Linked DNA regions of Homo sapiens. The gene in region 3 interacts genetically with the main gene of each other region. Each region holds a gene or a part of one and is shown on either strand. Other genes may lie near its edges.

Evidence for each region. Genes that interact genetically often act in the same process or in processes that back each other up.
Region 1: changes in DHX37 (region 3) and XRN2 together harm fitness more than expected from each alone (negative genetic interaction), as found in Homo sapiens cells (one large-scale study listed by BioGRID).
Region 2: changes in DHX37 (region 3) and BDP1 together harm fitness less than expected from each alone (positive genetic interaction), as found in Homo sapiens cells (one large-scale study listed by BioGRID).

The regions. Positions count from the first base shown.
Region 1 is NC_000020.11:21,383,331-21,386,827, forward strand, and holds part of XRN2 (5'-3' exoribonuclease 2), read left to right. Parts: intron 1-3,497. UniProt on the Homo sapiens protein: Possesses 5'->3' exoribonuclease activity. May promote the termination of transcription by RNA polymerase II.
Region 2 is NC_000005.10:71,563,651-71,565,985, reverse strand, and holds part of BDP1 (transcription factor TFIIIB component B'' homolog), read right to left. Parts: exon of another isoform or gene 1,233-2,335; coding exon 1,101-1,232; 3' UTR 1-1,100. UniProt on the Homo sapiens protein: General activator of RNA polymerase III transcription. Requires for transcription from all three types of polymerase III promoters. Requires for transcription of genes with internal promoter elements and with promoter elements upstream of the initiation site.
Region 3 is NC_000012.12:124,982,632-124,986,131, reverse strand, and holds part of DHX37 (probable ATP-dependent RNA helicase DHX37), read left to right. Parts: coding exon 1-36; intron 37-3,500. UniProt on the Homo sapiens protein: ATP-binding RNA helicase that plays a role in maturation of the small ribosomal subunit in ribosome biogenesis. Required for the release of the U3 snoRNP from pre-ribosomal particles.

The DNA of each region.
Region 1 (3,497 bases), on a different chromosome or scaffold from region 3:
TCTTATTGCTCACTTTCCATACTAATAATAATGGCAAATGTTTGTCTGCTTACAAAGTGTTAACACTGTGTTAACATCCTTTAATAAGAATGATTTCATTTATTCCTCCTAGCAGTGCATTGAAATAGATGCTGTTATGTTTACATTTTTGCAAATGAAGAAAGTGAGGCACAGAGAAGTTCAGCAGCTTACCTAAGGTCACTCTTTTGTGCCATTCTTTACCAAGAAACTTTTCACTGGAACAAAACTTACCAGAATATTTACTCTGAGCGTAATATAAAGACGTAGGGACTTCAAAGGAAGTAAAGGATCTGTTTCCACTTCTAAGGCCCCAACAGCTTTCCTCCCCTCTGTTCACATTAAAAGTTTTCCTAAGATCATCATCATTGTCCCTTCCCTTACCCTGCTGTCCATCAGGTTTTGTTCTTATTCTACCCTAGCCAAGTACTAGTATTATTCTGACTTTGTGAACCCAGCAGGTTAGTGACAAGTTTTGTGGGAATGTTTTTTGGTTTAGTTTTAGTCAGATACTTAAAATTATGCCTGAAAGCAAAAGGTAAATGTGAGCATAATAGAGTTCTATCATAAAAGTCTTACATCACAGACATTTAAGAAAGATACCATTTTGTTCCAGAACCAGGTTTTACCAGTTCTTAGTTCAGTATGTTTCCACGACGCTACTGTTTGTTGAGAATCCTATTAAGAGAATTTTGAGTGTCTTTTTTTTATTACATTGCATTTCTTGAATAATTTCCTACTTTAAGATGGTATGTATAATCCATATATCCAGTAGATTTAAAAATACAACAGGAACATCCTCCCAACACAGACACAGCCTAGAGTTAATAGATACCCAGCATTGGAGTTCCCTTTGTCACTTGAGTTTTGCCACATTGTTTGGGTTCTTCTTGTCAATGGAGGCCTCTTTTTCAGTCATTTGCAAGGCAGCCATTTAGTTTTTTACCTATGAGTGTTAAGCTCAATCATGAAAAATCTTTTAAATAAAACTCCGATTTTACCATATGCATACATTTAAAATATTCAAATTGGTAGTAGTTCACATCTCCAGTAACTTTCCAAAACAATTTGGAAACTTAAAAAAATTGTTGCTATCTACGATGCCAAATGGCTCAAATAAGTTGCCTTATTTATTAACTTCTTTTATTGATTTATTGATTGAGACAAGGTCTCACTCTGTCACCCAGGCTGGAGTGTAATGTCATGATCTTGGCTCACTGCAGCTTCTGCCATCCAGGTTCAAGTGATTCTGATGCTTCAGCCTTCCAAGTAGCTGGGACTACAGGCTCCCACACCACCATGCCTGGCTGATTTTTGTATTTTTAGTAGAGACGGGGTTTTCCCATGTTGCCTAGGCTGGTCTCAAACTCCTGGGCTGAAGTGATCTGCCTGCCTCGGCCTCCTGGAGTGCCGGGATTACAGGCTGAGTTACTGTGCCTGGCCTAATTGCTAATTTTTAGAATTTAGGATATGTCAGTTTCTGTGCTTCTATCCCAGATTTTAAAACATAATTTCCTAGGCAAATTTTTAGTTTTGTAAGTATTTGCAAAATATATAATTAGTCTAGACATGTGATAAACTTGTTGAAAATAAAGGCCTTTCTGTCATAAAAGTCAGAAGAAGGTAGTACATGACATCCTTGCTTTGTTCTTCTGTTTAATTTTAATTATTGATGATTTTTTTCATAAAAATTATATTTGTCAAAAACATTATAAGTAATCAATTCAAACAAAAAGAACTTTGCGTTTTTAAACTGTGGCTTTGTTCTTAACCTGTTTTTGGAACATAAAATAGTTTTGAATTGCATTTATAATGTATATTATTTATGCCAGCAGATCTTCCTAAAACTCAATTGAATTTTATTATTGTAAGACTCAAAAGAAAAACTGATCACAGTTAAGATGTGAATTGTGTTTTTAGCCCGTGGGTTTTGCATTAATTGGCCCAGTTTTGATGAGACTTTGGTTACAGCACAAACCTTAGTTTAGCCCTTCACTCCTGCAGAGACTGGAAGAGACCATTCCTATCTCTGCACACGGAGCTCTTCTTGCTAAAACAGATGGAGGCATTCTTGCTAAAATATATTTGTGCTAGTAATTGTCCTGAAAAATAATTAAAAGCCCTAGCCATATGCATTTTCTTTCTGAGATAAAAACTTATTTTTAATTGTATTCTGAATTACTTATAACACATTGTTATTAGAGCTCTGGTTTCAGCTACCAACTGTAAAGAAAAACTTTAGCCTTTCTAGAGTTCTTTAGAGAGCAGTTCATTTCTTCGAATCATCACACAAAAATAATTATCTCTGGTGTTGTTTTAATAAAAAGAAGGCAAGCTCCAAGTGAAGGGAGGAGAGTGGGGGTAGAGAGGATGGATTCAGGCTTGAATAGCTGTGAGAAGAATGCTTTACCCAATGAGCCCAGCGCCGGGCTTTTTTCCCCTAAGACCTCGGAAGTGAAATTCTTATGCTGATATGGTTATAACTGATTACCAGCTAGTCAGCACTTCAGTGAATTTAAAGTTTTATTGAATTCCTCCTAACATGGTCAGTGGCCCCAAAGCTTCTGATGTTCAAGTATACTGGAGCATTTGCCTCTGTTTATTCTTTGTAGTGCCTTCCATAAAATAGAAGTTATGGAAAGTGCCTTAAGGAGAAAGTAAAGTCTTAAATGGTGATTGCCTTTAGAAGGTATATCCTTGCTACATTGTTTATGTGACAGTTTTTAATTAAGTTATGATTTAGTACATTATACCTGTTGCTTTGCATCTGCAAAGTTAAAATAGTCACTTGAAGACAATTAAAACATTTCTTTCGACTAGTAATCTGCGACAGCAAACTGGGTTATAATAGCCGTTGAATCTGTGTTCCCATGTAAACTGTACACCAAATGCCAGTCAGCCCATGCCAATTAGTGCTCATGTTGCTAGGTCACCGTGGTCAATTGAAAGCTGCATCAATAGAACTTGAAAAGGTTTCCTCCCAATCAGACCTTCTGACATATTGAACAGAATAATGGATGGGAAAAAACAGCCAAGTCTCCTACCCTGGATTCAAAATACTCAGCAGTAAGAATTCATTTGCAACCTGCAATTAAGTAGAAAGAATGGATCCAAGAACGAGTCTGGACATTTTTGAAAATAAAGCCTCATTCTCCTGTCTTGTACATGTTTACTCTTTGGATAGCATCTTAAATGTAGCCATCTTGGTGATCTTGGGTCTACATCTTTAAGTGACTAAAAAGGAAATTTCCCAATTGAAAATGAACAAAATAACTTTTAAAAGTCAGAACTTCTCAGTTGAGTTTAAACATCCATTGTAATAAATGCTGATGCTTCATGAAACATGTTAGATTATACTGGATATAAGGGACACAAAGGCCATTCTGATACTCTGTATCCCATATGATAAATCCAGGTAAATTGGATTGTACTAAAATTTGGAGATGATACCTGCCGATTTTAGGCTTTGTGCTGTATAA
Region 2 (2,335 bases), on a different chromosome or scaffold from region 3:
CTTTATCTACAATCTGAGGGGTAAAAATAGCTAAAACTGAATATCCTTTTAAATAAAAAATTTAAAAATAAATAAGCCCTTTGATGTGTCATCTTTATAAATAATTATGTTTAAATACTAGTTTTTCAATTAGGACTAATGTTACATCACCATGAATTAGAAAAATATGTATTTTTCAGTCAGACAAACAGCTGATAATAGAAAAGTTCTTTAACATTTGCCATACTAAAGTGAAGTTTGACAATTTGTTTTCACATATAGTCACGTGTCCCTTAACTACATGTTCTAAGAATTGCCTTGTTAGGTGATCTTGTGTGAAACAACGCAGAGTGTACTTACAAACACTGAGATGGTACAGGCTGCTACACACCGTACAGACTGAGGCTATGTGGTATAGCCTATTGCTCCTCGGCTACAAACCTCTACAATGTGTTACTATGCTGAATACTGTAGGCAGTTGTAACACAATAGTAAGTATTTGTGTATCTAAACATATCTAAACATAAAAAAGCAATGCACTGTGTTATGATGGCTATAATGTCACTAGTTGATAGGAATTTATCTCCATTTTAATTGCATGGGACCACTGTAATATATGTGGTCCATCATTGACTTAAACTTCATTATGTGATACATGACTGTACTTAGAAGCAAATGAAAAAGCCTTCATCCTTCATCATCTCCCCCTAAAAATAAAAAATCTTCACAAAAGAAGTTGCTAAATGTTAAATATGATACAATTAACCCCCAAATCTGTCTGCACTGCAATTCATACAGAGACATATATCCACAACATTCCCAAATGTCCATGTGTGCTTAGCACAGGAAGAGTCAAAATGTAAACAAGAGTTGTTATTTCTGTCTGAGAAAGCAGTCTTAATTGCTTGCTATTTGCAAAATGCTGAATCAGTCAGAATGAAAGGAACCTCAGAAATGTTTTCCACTGATTATAAAAGCTTCAAATCAAGCTCATTAAGTATTCAAAATCAACCTAAAGAAAAATAAGACAGTGATATTTTGCTCTAAATACTGTTTTGTTGATGTAATTGACTCTGGAAATCCTAGACCTAATTTAAAAAAGAAAAAGAGAAAAGATTGTTTTATTCTGTTTCATCCACTTCAATGAAGATATCATTGAAGAAATATTCAGAGACTGTGGTTGCCTCCCCTTGAGGGGCCCGCTTTTGGGCACTTTTATATCCTTCTTTCAGTAAGGGCTGATCACAAGAAACCTAAAAAGGTAATAAAAATAAAGTAAAAATAAAACTGTAATACAACATTTATATATATATGTGTGTGTATATATAGCAGTCTAAACCAATATGATCTGTTTGAAAAGCAACGTGGCAATAAATATTGAGCTTTAAATATGTTCACAATCACTGACCCAAAAATTTCACTTCTATGCTGTTACATTAAGTAAATAATCCTAAACATAGTAGGAGTTTTATGACTAAGATAACCTTTGTAGCATTAGTTATAATAATAAAATAGGAAGCAACTAAATATACCACACTAGATATAATTAGGTAAATTACAGTGTACCCATAATCCATTACTTCATCCTAATTTCCATGAAAAATTTTAATAAAGAAAAATATAATATGGTTAAATCTGTCACTAAATAAAGTAAAAATACTTTAATTATTTGCATAATAGACAGACCCATGACAAAACAGCACCTAAAGAAAACATATCAAAGATACCTTATCAGAAATTAGCATACTTACAAATCTATAAACAAATTAAGACAGCATGGTATTGGCACACGAATGACAGATATATCAATGAAACAGAAGACTAGAAATAACCCCAATATATATAGAAATTTAGCATCTGATAAAAGTGCCATATCAAAAACAGTTATTGTATTATTAAATAAATGATGTTGGACAACTATATAACCATCTCAGGGGGAAAAAAGTCAGACCAATACCTTACCAAAACAAATTCTAGATGGATCAAAAGATTTAAATGTAAAAGTATTTTTTAAAAAACTCTACTATAAAAATGCCATGGAAAAACACTTTTATAATTCTGGACGGAGGTAGGTGGGGAAGGGTACCTTTTTATTTATTTATTTATTTTAAGACAAAGCCAGGCTGGAATGCAATGGCATGATCTCAGCCCACTGCAACCTCCACCTCCCGGGTTCAAGCAATTCTCTTATCTCAGCCTCCCAAGTAGCTGGGACTACAGGCACACACCACCGTGCCTGATTAAATTTTGTATTTTGGTAGAGATGGGGTTTTGCCATGTTGGCCAGGCTGGTCTCAAACTCCTCACCTCAGGTGATCTGCCCGCCTTGGCCTCCCAAAGTGCTGGGATTACAGGC
Region 3 (3,500 bases):
CAGAAAATCTTAGAACAGAAGGAGAAAAAGAGCCAGGTACACCCCACTCGGGCAGGGTCTGCAAGTGGCTCTCCAGCATAGAGAGAGATGGGGGGTCTCTCTCCTCCTGAGGGTGTCTCTGTGGTGCAACTAATAGAACTTTCTGGAATGAGGAAAATTCCAGTGCATGGTCCAGTGCGGTAGCCACTAACCACATATTGCTGTTGAGCACTTGAAATGCAGCTACTATGGCAGAGGAACTGAACTGAACTGTTCCGGAGAATGTCAAACTTTTTTCCTTGTTTTTTCTTCTTTTTTTTTTTTTAATTTAAATTTAATTTTTTTTTCTTTTTTGTTTTGTTCCCCCACCCCCGACATCTTTTCTGGCTCTACCAAACCTTAAAAAAATTTTTTTTTTTTGAGATGGAGTCTTGCTCTGTTGCCCAGGCTGGAGTGCAGTGAAATGATCTTGGGTTCTCCTGGTATCAAGTGATTCTCCTGCCTCAGCCTCCTGTGTAGCTGGGATTACAGGCGCGTGCCACCACGTCAGGCTATTTTTTTTTTTTTTTTTTGTATTTTTAGTAGAGGCGGGGTTTCATCATGTTAGCCAGGATGATCTTGATATCCTGACCTCGTGATCCGCCCGCCTCGGCCTCCCAAAGTGCTGGGATTACAGGCGTGAACCACCATGCCCAGCCAACCTTAATTTTTTCATAGAGGAAAAAAGTTTGTCATGGGAAATTCAAACATTTGCAAGGGAAATTCAAACATTTGCAAGAGTAAAGAGAACAGTATGATGAACTCCCATGTGCCCATCGCCAGCTCCAACATTGATCAGCCCCTGGTCAATCTTGGATTATCTCCACTGCTGGTCACTTTCCCACCTCTGGGTCATTTTGAAGCAAATCCCACATACAGTGAATCTGTACTAGTTTCCTGGGGATGTCATACAAATGACCACAAACTGAGGGGCTTAGGACAATAGAAATTTGTTCCTTCCCAGCTTAGGAGGCCAGAAGTCCGAGATCAAGGTATTGGCAGGGCGGTGCTCCTCACTGGGCTCAGGGGAGGGTCATTCCTGGCCTCTTCCTGCTCCTGGCGGCTCCAGGCGTTCCCTTGGCTTGTGGCTGCGTCACTCCAATCTCTGCCTCCCTCTTCCCTCGGCCTTTCCTCCGTGTGTCTCTTCGAAGGGCGCTTCTCATTGGATTTAGGTCGCGCTCAGATACTCAGGATCATCTCATCTTGAGATCCTTCACGTAATTACGTAATTACATCTACAAAACCTTTTTCCAAATAGGGTCACGTTCGCAAGTTCTGGGATACGAACACGTCTTTGAGGGAGGCTGCCATTTAACCCACTATACATAGCATTATATCCATAAATATTTCAATTTGTATCTCTATAAGTAGAGACTTTTAAAAATGACCAGAATACCATTAGCACACCTAATCTTTTATTTTAATATCAAACATCTAGCAAGTGGTTAAATTTCCTGTTGTTTCATGGATACTCCTCACCCTTTTCTTGTTTTTTTTTCCCATTGTAGTTTATTTGTTGTTTGTCTTACAGTTTCCTACCTTCTGGATTTTTAAATTTTTATTTTATTTTATTATTTTTTGAGATGGAGTTTTGCTCTTGTTGCCCAGGCTGGAGTGCAATGGCATGATCTCGGCGCACCGCAACCTCCACCTCCCGGGTTCAAGTGATTCTCCTGCCTCAGCCTCCCGAGTAGCTGGGATTACAGGCATGCACCACCACGTCCGGCTAACTTTGTTATTTTTAATAGAGACAGGGTTTCTCCATGTTGGTCAGGCTGGTCTTGAACTCCCAACCTGAAGTGACCCACCTGCCTCGGCCTCCCCGAGTGCAGGGATTATAGGCGTGAGCCACTGCGCCCAGCCTTAAAATTTTATTTTAAACATGCTCCTCTGCCATCTGAGCTTTTTGTACATTAGTATTTGGATCTGTAGCAGTGACTGTCATCCGGAACAGTTTTGCGCGCCGCCCCCCGCTGCCCCAGGGACATTTGGCAGTGTCTTGAGACATTTTGGGCTGTGACAACTTGGGAGTGCTGCTGGCATCTGGCGGGTGGAGCCATGGGATGCTGTTAACAGCCTATAATGCACAGAAAAACAAAAACTTATTTGGCCCTAAATGTCAATAGTGCTGAGATTGAGGAACCCTGACCTGGAGCCTTCATGAGAATCAAGTTTGACTTTTGGTGAGGCCACTGCACGTGGGAGCTGTGTCTTCACATCAGGAGGCTTGAGGGTCTCTCTCCAGCAGCCGTGGATGGGCAGTCCCCAGAGCCTTGGTAGGGGGAAGACTTACTCACCTGTGAGCGTGTTCTTTTTTTTTTTTTTTTTGGAGACAAGGTCTTGCTCTGTTGCCCAGGCTGGAGTGCAGTGGTATGATCTCAGCTCACTGCAACCTCTGCCTCCCAGGTTCAAGCCATTGTCCTGCCTCAGCCTCCCGGGTAGCTGGTACCACAAGCATGCGCCACCATGCCCGGCTAATTTTTGTATTTTTAGTAGAGACATGGTTTCACCATGTTGGTTAGGTTGGTCTTGAACTCCTGACCTCAGGTGATCCACCCGCCTCGGCCTCCTAAAGTGCTGAGATTGCAGGCGTGAGCCACTGTGCCTGGTCAGTGTGTCCTTTTTAAATCCTATTTAGGGTGCTTTCCCGCTGTGCTATACCTTGTTCTGTGTGTGTGTGTGTGTGTGTGTGTGTAATACACACATAGAAGTGTGTAGGCTGGGCGCGGTGGCTCACGCTTGTAATCCCAGAACTTTGGGAGGCCGAGGCGGGCAGATCATGAGGTCAGGAGATCGAGACCACGGTGAAACCCCGTCTCTACTAAAAATACAAAAAATTAGCCAGGCATGGTGGCGGGCGCCTGTAGTCCCAGCTACTTGGAGAGGCTGAGGCAGGAGAATGGCGTGAACCCAGGAGGCAGAGCTTGCAGTGAGCCAAGATCGCACCACTGCACTCCAGCCTGGGTGACAGAGCGACACTCTGTCTCAAAAGAAGTGTGTATAAAACCTATATGTACAGTTACAAGAACAATAAAGTAAAAACTCACGAAACCCTCACCCAACTAAAAGAAGCCAACTGGGTACACCCCCTGCACACAGCATTGCTCAGGGTAGCTCGGGGACCAATTCACATCAGACACACAAAGCCGCCTCCTTCCTCAGAGCAGCTAGGGAGCACTGCTGTACATGACTGAACTGTGCTTTATTCATCTCCTGTTGATGGACATCTGGTGGGCCATAATCTTCTACTGTGATACCCTGCTGCAGAGAACCTCATTTATACAACCCCAGATTCTGTAAAAGGGGTTAAAAAAGCCAGCTTGCTGTGTCTGTTGATGGAAGAACACCATGCACCAGTAGAATTGCAATTTGACCGCCGATTTTAAAGACTCCAGGTGTTAATGATGCTGAAATTTTATTACAGTCTCACTTCCCTTCTTAAGAGAGGGTCGTGATGGCAAATGCATAATACACTCGTTTCC